Linked DNA regions of Homo sapiens: region 2 is reported to be linked to region 1. The links are microRNA targets in miRTarBase. Many come from high-throughput screens and were not tested one by one. Region 1 holds a microRNA gene; the other region holds the end of a gene's coding sequence.
What was found. The annotated mature microRNA hsa-miR-377-3p reads AUCACACAAAGGCAACUUUUGU and lies in region 1 at 1,585-1,606, opposite strand. An mRNA with a match to its seed (bases 2 to 7 or 8) in the 3' UTR can be bound and repressed. Matches are read on the target gene's strand: a 7mer-m8 pairs with bases 2 to 8, a 7mer-A1 pairs with bases 2 to 7 and ends in A, and an 8mer does both.

Region 2: miRTarBase lists ANTXR2 as a target of hsa-miR-377-3p. The part of its 3' UTR that is shown has no 7-base or 8-base seed match.

Annotation. Positions count from the first base shown.
Region 1 is chr14:101,059,631-101,063,699 of GRCh38, reverse strand. It overlaps MIR377 (microRNA 377), which reads right to left and starts at 1,650; the gene lies at 1,582-1,650. MIR154 (microRNA 154) reads right to left here and starts at 3,945; the gene lies at 3,862-3,945. MIR496 (microRNA 496) reads right to left here and starts at 3,127; the gene lies at 3,026-3,127.
Region 2 is chr4:79,903,759-79,907,827 of GRCh38, reverse strand. ANTXR2 (ANTXR cell adhesion molecule 2) reads left to right here. Exons shown (of 17, transcript NM_058172.6): 17 at 361-4,069. The coding sequence ends at 399. Among named protein-coding and RNA genes, the nearest start is that of PCAT4, 78 kb to the right of the region's middle.

The DNA of each region.
Region 1 (4,069 bases):
TTTGTGTATCACCTGTCTGTGACCTGGAAGCTCCCTCCTTCCTGCCTTCGCTTCAAGTTGTCCCACCTTTGCAGACAAAACCAATGTACTTCTTACATGTGCTGAATGATGTCTCATGTCTCCCTAAAATGTATAAAGCCAAGCTGTGCCTTGACCACAGTACTTCCTGAAGCTGTGTTACGGGTGTATCCTCAACCTTGTCAAAATAAACTTTCTAAATTAACTAAGAGCTGTCTCAGATTTTCTGAGTTCACAGAAGCAACTGTCCTGAAAGACCAGACCCCACTGACCGTAGAACTTCTGCTTCCCTCCGGAGTCAGCGTCTCACCCAGAACCCTCCGTGGGGATGGAGGGAGACCAGGTGATGCCTGTCACTTACGTATGAATGCTCTGGGGACAACATGCACCCAGATCCCCGGGAGGACGCCTTACCAGTGTGTCACGCCTGAAGTCAGCACACCTTTCCGGGAAGCTCTCGGGAAGGTTTGGGGCAGCAAGAAAAGATCAACTGCATAAAGGGGGAGACTGTATCCCATTTTTTGACCCTAGGTTCCTACTGACCCCACCAACTCCACTGTAAACACGCACAAATGTAACCACCTTCACAAGAATTGTACCAACACTGATATTCATAGAAACGTGTTTTTCAGAGCCAATGCCATTATACTAATCCAATTCCCTGTTTAGCTTTCCTGACCGCGCTGTTGAGCTGTTTTCATTTCTCTTATTTCCCTTGTTATTTTCCCCAAATCATTTTCATTAGGATCAATTTTTTCCATTTAAAAATCTGCATGAAGATTTGATTCCTCAATGTGTTCTTGTCTACATCAAATATCACTGTTTATCACCGCCGCCACCGTGAATTTCCTTCCATGGCTGCCACGTCGGCAGCTTGCTATTTCCCCAGGTCAAATGTCACAGCTGAAATGTTGTCAAGAAAATTGGATTCCTCTGCCAATTTGTAGTCAACTGAACACATTTAGCACTGTGCCGTTTCAGCTGTTTTTAGTTTTATTTTGTGTTGATTATTTTTATCAGTATTATTTAATACAAATGGGATGAGATACTGATAGCCTCTATTTGTTTCATAACCCAGGAGAAAATTGGGAACAATGTTTGGTTGGGGGATAGAAAGAGAAAGATAGAGACAAGGAAAGGTGCAGAAAGAAGCACAGTGCTTGTGAGCTAGACGGGGGTCTGGGGCTGCAGACTCGTCACAGACCCTGCCAAGTGTGAGCTCTTTGTGTATCCGCGAGGTCAAATACCTTCCGAAAAAAAAATGGTGGAGTCAAAATGTCTTTGGGATCAACACAGCCAAAATGGTGATGTAAAGAGACAGGGTCCAGGGTAAGAGCTAAAGCCGACGCGACACCAACGCCATCCTCCCCGGGCCGCGAGCCCCGCCCCCATCATGAATGAAGCTTGTGTTCTCTGAGCGACATCTGTTCTCATCCACCGCAGAGGACCGCAGAGGGCAGACCACCCACGTCTACCCCGTCCATTCTTGCTCACGGGAGGGGTGTAGATGCCCCTGAGCTTGCCACTGGGTCCCGGAAGCCATCCCAAGCAGGATTTGATACTCAAACAAAAGTTGCCTTTGTGTGATTCAACATAAATAAAGCGAATTCACCAAGGGCAACCTCTGCTCAAGGGTCAAACATCAGCACGGGCAAGAACACACCGAGATGCCTCTTCACCAAAGGCGGCATTGCCTGCGGGACCTCCCTGCTGACTCCAGCTGCAGGCTCGCTGGCTTGCTGGCTCGCTCTCTCCCCTCTTGCTCTCTCTCTCTCTCTACCTCCGAGAAGCCCCCCAGGCAGTGGTCAGAACATGGTTGGTCATGGACCAGCTTCTGTAGCCCTGGAGCAGGCAGTGGGGGCGAGGCTATGCACACACACATCACAGGTCAGCCCGAGCTAGAGTCAGCCCCTGGTCACCTACCCTAGAGGGGCTGGAACACCAAGGTCCACCTCCAGAGCCGGTATCTCCTCTGGAAGTCTCTGAAGCAGGATTTCACACAGAGAAGGGGGCTGCCAATGAACCATGTGACCGTGTTCAGTCCAGCCTACAGGGGTTTGAGGGAGGACCCGACCTGAAGGCTGGCGACTCCTCGTCCAGCGCAGCATCCTCAGAGGGTGGGTGGGGCTGCGTCACAGGGACAGCACAGGCTCAGGTGACTGTACTCCATGCACTCCATTCCAGGAGGCCTCAAAGAGAGTTCAACCAAGAAAACAGGTCACGCTGCCTATTCATTCATTCAGCATCACACCTACTGTGCACATCTGGCGACACAGCACCAGGCAAAACAGACAAGGACTCTGCCCTCAGGGAGCTTCCATTCTAGTGGCGAGAGGACAATGAGTGCAGATGACATAACATTCATATAATGACCATCCTCAGAAACAATGCTTATCCTACAGCCACGTGCCAGACGCTGTCTAGACACTTCACAAAGAGCACGTTTCCACTCCGCTGTTAACCCTGCTTTACAGAGGAAGAGACTGAGGCCCAGAGAGCTGATAGGTGAAGGGATTTTCCAAGGGCACACAGCTGGCAACATAAGGTAGTAATAAATGCTATTAACAATTCTCGTCTTGCAGTAGGAATAACCGAGTCGTGCCATGGAAATGTGTCTTTAAACAACATTAATTCTCACTGCTGAGGAAACCCCCTTCACCCCTTGCTTCCCAGAGGTCACCCAGAAGATAAGGTATTTGAGGGCGTAATGTGGATGTCTTCCATTCAGCCAGGAGTTCCTTTCCCTAAAGTGTGCCACACAGCCAAGATGATTTCACACCTAAAAAGGTTGACTAAATGTGGTTTATTCACTGACGAGTCTTCAAGGATGCGACTAGAAGACCACCATGTCAACTAAAACGTCAGCATCATTTCGGGGAATTCCTCCTAATGATGGCCGGGATATGAGCCAAGTGATGTAAGTCACACAGAGAGCACCTGTCATGCGGAGGTGATCCACTTCCTTACCCTGCGCAGGTGCCGGCTGGGCTTTCCCCTCGTGACGTTTCCCAAGAAGAATTGAGTACCGAAAGGAGATTGGCCATGTAATACTCATCATAAATAAAATGAACACACCATGGACAACCTCCATTCGAGTACCTGACTTGGGTGCTCGCTTCCAGCGCGTCCCAGCAGCAGGCCTGAGGACGGACGGGATACTGAGAGTCAGGAAGGTGGCAACACACCACCCACGAAATAAGCTCTGCGGTCCGGGCCGCACTCCATCCCTTACTTGCAATTAGCACCTCTTGCAGGAAGCCATTCAGGGAGGGAAGTGCCACAGCAGAGAGGTCTGCAGAGCACCATCTGTGATACATGAAGAGAGGGCAGCAGGGAAGACAGCAAGACGGTGTCTTGTCAAACATGCAGTGAGCCGATGAGGGAACTGCCGCCTCTTTCGAGGAAACTGCCATGGTAAGCAAGCAGGACGCCTGCAGGTGCACGACCCACCAAGAAGAGTGTGCACACTGTCAGCTTCGCCGTGCGTTCAGGCATTCAGACACCAGTTCTAGTTCCTAAACTCGGCACCACCCGAGGGTGCTTTAAGGCTAGATTTAATGCTTTCAAAAGAGTCCACTATGTAGGATTGGTCAAAAAATAAATCGAATGCATCATGGAAGACCTCTCCACCAGTACCACAGAGTAGCTCTGATAGGAAAAGCTCCACTTCTTCCCCAAAGGTGGCACCATCTCTAGAAACCTCCCCAAGGACGGGGCACACACAGGGTTAGGGCCAGGGCACACTGCTGGGTCGGCTATGGTCAATGGTCCCCTTCCTTACCCTGGAGAGGAGCTGACACCCTGAAGTAAGACTCCGCTCCAGGAAGCCCTCCAAGGCGGGATTTGGTACTGAAAAATAGGTCAACCGTGTATGATTCGTCACAAATAAAGCGAAGGCAACACGGATAACCTATCTTCAAGTACCACACGCTAGCGCAGACCCAATGTCAATGCCTGTTCTCCAAAGTTGGCCTCCTCCAGGAAGTCCCCCTAGGAGACAGTGAACATTGACGGTTAGCAGACGGACTGCAAGAGGGTTGAGAAGAAAGCA
Region 2 (4,069 bases), not on the chromosome of region 1:
GCATAAGAAAATATTTTCATTTTAATTCATTACATAAAGAAGTATATTGGGTTGTGGCTTTGATATTTTTATGGCCGTGATAGTAATGCTGTATTTTAGATAATAGTAACATTCTATTTCCATAATTGTTTTTCCATATTAATTATACCATACCATCTCATAGGTGAACTTACTGTGGAAAAGATCTGAATGAACCATCATGCTTTAACCCAAGAAAAAAAAATTATGACTTCATGTCTCAAGTTAACATGGTACTTTCCTTGGGTAATCATTTATTATCATGGTAGGAAAACTAGATGTTCTCATGCTTTTTTAAATAATGGCTTCAATATTTCAATATGGATTTATTTCTTTCTTCAGGGCCGGTGCATAAACTTCTCCCGAGTTCCATCTCAGTAAAAGGGAAGCAGGAAGACCAAGAAGGTACGAAGATGGCACATTTTCACATAGCTGATTTTCAACCAAATGAAAAAAATCAAGTGCATTTCAGAAGCTTTTGGAAGAGCAGCTTAATTCCTCTCAGTCGGGAAATGTTTTCTCTGCCTTCTGCTTTGCTTGCACCAAACATTTCTAAACACTTGTTCTGCCATCTACATGGGAGGTGATGAAACTCAGTGGTAACTCATGATTTATGACATTGAAAATAAAGAGGAACATTGACCTGCAGACTATGGTTTGTACAAGAAAGTTTGTTTGAATGTGTAGAAGAGGAAAAAGCAACAACAGCAACAACACGAAGATGATACCAAAACAAGGACCACAAAACAACTAGCCATGATGGGAGACAGGAGTTTTTTACATGGAAACATGGCACTTGTGTTTTTATGTGGCAAGATCTTTATCCATAGGCAGAGTATGAAATTTCCCACCAGGCTAAGCAAATAAAGAAGTCCATTGCCTTATAGCTATGTCAGATCACAGAATCCTTCCAAGTGCTCTATCACAGTGTGCCTTATGGGAAGTTTCTGACTGGAAAATCTTGTCATTCTAACACTGAAAAGTGCACACGCATGACAAAATGTAGACAAGATGCCTCAAGGTATTGGTAGCAAGCAAGATTTTGCCCTTTAGTTTTCGAAGACACCTTTCTTTCATTATGCACTCGGGACAAGAAAATTAATAGAGCGTTATTCCACAGAAGGCCTCTAGCCAGAGATCTTGAGTGTAGTGCAAGGGACTCATTTTTTGCGAACTTGTCCCTGTGACTAGTAGATTCCCCCTTTTCCTGTGTTTAGGATTTAGTAGTGCATAAAGCATTAATATCCATAAACATACCTAGAAGTTTGTTTTGCTTTTAATTTAAAGGAAGCAGTAACCACAAAGCTTCCGCTCAGGGTTTTTTCTTTCTTCAAGTCTCCAAGGGCTCTTCAGCGTCACAAGCCAGCAACTCTCTTTGCATTAAAATTTCAAAGTTTAATTAATATAATTAAAAGCAACAGCAAGCAGCAGCCTGTGAAGATTTTGCTCATCTTTTTTATGCCTTTTGACATTGAATGACCTATTACTGTATGCGCATTACTTGGATTTTGAGGGGCACTCTACCTTGGTTATGATTCAGTAGAGGAAAAAGACCACCTTTCTTCAATTTACAAATTAAATCTTCTGGAGGGTCGCTATCACAAAACATTGACGATGTATGTATTATAATTTTTTAGAAAAACCACCATCGTGTCACGTCGACGATGCCAAATTATGTTAGCGTGAGCAGAAACACCGTGGGGGAGGAAGGCAGCAGCTGAAGAAAAAAGCTCAAATGATCTAGTCACTTTCGATACTGTACTTCAGATGCGAAATGGATATTCGAGTGGAAACCTGACAAAGTGCGCCTGCTTTGATGTGAACTGGTATAGACAATGACCAGTGGCTGGGTCAGTGGGATGTCTCTCTGTGAGCACAAAGGCTTATCAAATGACACTAAAAATAAGTTCAACAACCATCACATTGGAAGGGAGAAGGCGAACATTTCATGTTTGGCGGGCATGTGAGTGCACAAGATGGAAAGAGCGATTGGAGCATCCTGGTATAATTACCCCCATTGTGCTCTTAATGGAAATTTCAAAGGACGGGAGTATTCTGTTGGTTGGTGTCCAGGTTTGTGGCACTGTTCCAAGAGGCCTTACACACACACACAAATATATAATTTTCTATACATATATATCCTCTAGCTTGAAACTTTTGCTCAAGTTTATTTATGTCACTGGCTGGCTGGATCCAAAGTCATGTGTCCACACATTCATAAATAAAAATTTTACCTATGCCTGTGCTACCATTTCTTTAAGCCCACATAAAGCTAATGCCTTCTTGGGTTGAATATGCAGTTGTTATGCTTAGTTTCAGGGATGGAATTCTATTCAGTTCCAAAATGTCCCTCATGTTCACAGATGATACTATTGGCAGTAGCTGCATATGCAAGTGTAACTTGGAAGCCTGATATAGTATACCCAACCCTTTCTGCAATGAGTTATTGTATCCCTTTGTTCTGCATTTGCATCTGGAACAAGACCTAATGTGGCTTCCTTAAATGGGCACTTCATTTCTGATGAGTGCACACCAATTATTGCTATTTTAATATCATTGAGAATACTACAGAAGCTAAGGCTATGTTTCTTTGGTAACTACTTCAAATTTCTCTAGAATTATGTAGCATACTTACATTTTGCTGCATGAACAATGAAAATTAACCTCTGCCTTTAAATGGAAAAATAACTTTCTGTAGATTGTTATACAGCTACTATGAAGAGCTCTTAATGAAGAGGAAGTGGCAGTGGTCTATATGTAGACTGAAAAAATATCATTAATAAAGTTCAAAGACTGATGGAATTTCATTGCCCTTAAAGATATGAACCAGATCTGTTTTATGCTTTTCTCCAATTATACTAACTAGCAGTTGAAAAGAATTTGTTTTGAAGAGTGTTATTTTCTTACCAAAAGACCAGATCAAAAATCCCTATACTTTTCCACCAAAAAAAGATTAAAATGAAGCCATTTCTATAAATTTAATGGCACTTTATATTTTATATAGAGAAATAGCTTCTGTTTGATTTTCTGGACACCATGTCAGTCAAGATCTACTTTCTGTGTAAAAATGAATAAGTCTTGCACATAATCCATTCGTGTTGCATAAGGTTGCAAAAACAATTAAGTGGGAAATGACTCCTAACTTATGTGTCTACTCTGCCTAGAAAGAAAGTTTTGAAGGCATCTATATATATTTCATAACAATGTCTGTTCTTTATGGATTTGATCCATAAATATTTATCTATCTGAAAACTTTGATACTTGGAATGTTTTCCTTAGAGCATTTGGTGCTCCAAGAAAAAACATTTGGTGCTAAGAGTTGCAGCACTGATGCCTTTCCCTAAGTTAATTCTATTTTAAAAATTTATATTTCCTTCCCAATGAGATGCAGAGTAAAATTTGAGACCCTCCATTGACTAGGGAGCAGCATCTGTCATCTATGGTTAATTACTATTTTGACAAAAATATAGAAGGTTTAAACCCCCATGTATTTCAGATTGTTAGAGAAAGAAGTAGTTTGCTTATATTTCCCTTGAACTTTATTCTAACCATTTAAATAATAAATTATTCAATATTTGTTATAATAAATCCTTACTAGATACAAGATTTGGGTGTTTCTGTGAAGTTAACTTTATTATCTAAATATCACTAACCATTGTTTACTGCTCAGAGGCAGATACATTTGTTTAGTTTAAAGTTGAAACAAATTCTATATTGTGGATAATTAGGTGTTTAAAACATTTTGATAGACCAGCTTATATATGTTATTTTTGAAATTTAAGAAGGCAGAATGTAATTAGGTCACATTTACAAGTAGAAGGAATTATAACTTCCTACTCCATGCATATATTGTATATTGGTTAGCTTTTACTAGCATTTTCTAGCATCACATTACTTTAGAAAGTTTTTGAGAGTTTCATTACTACTGGAAAAGTTTGGTGGGTATATGTACACAGGAAAGAAATATATGCATCATTTCAATATGAAAGGAAATACATAATCTAGAAACATAGAATAACTCTTGGTACATCTGTTACATAGTTAAGGAAAG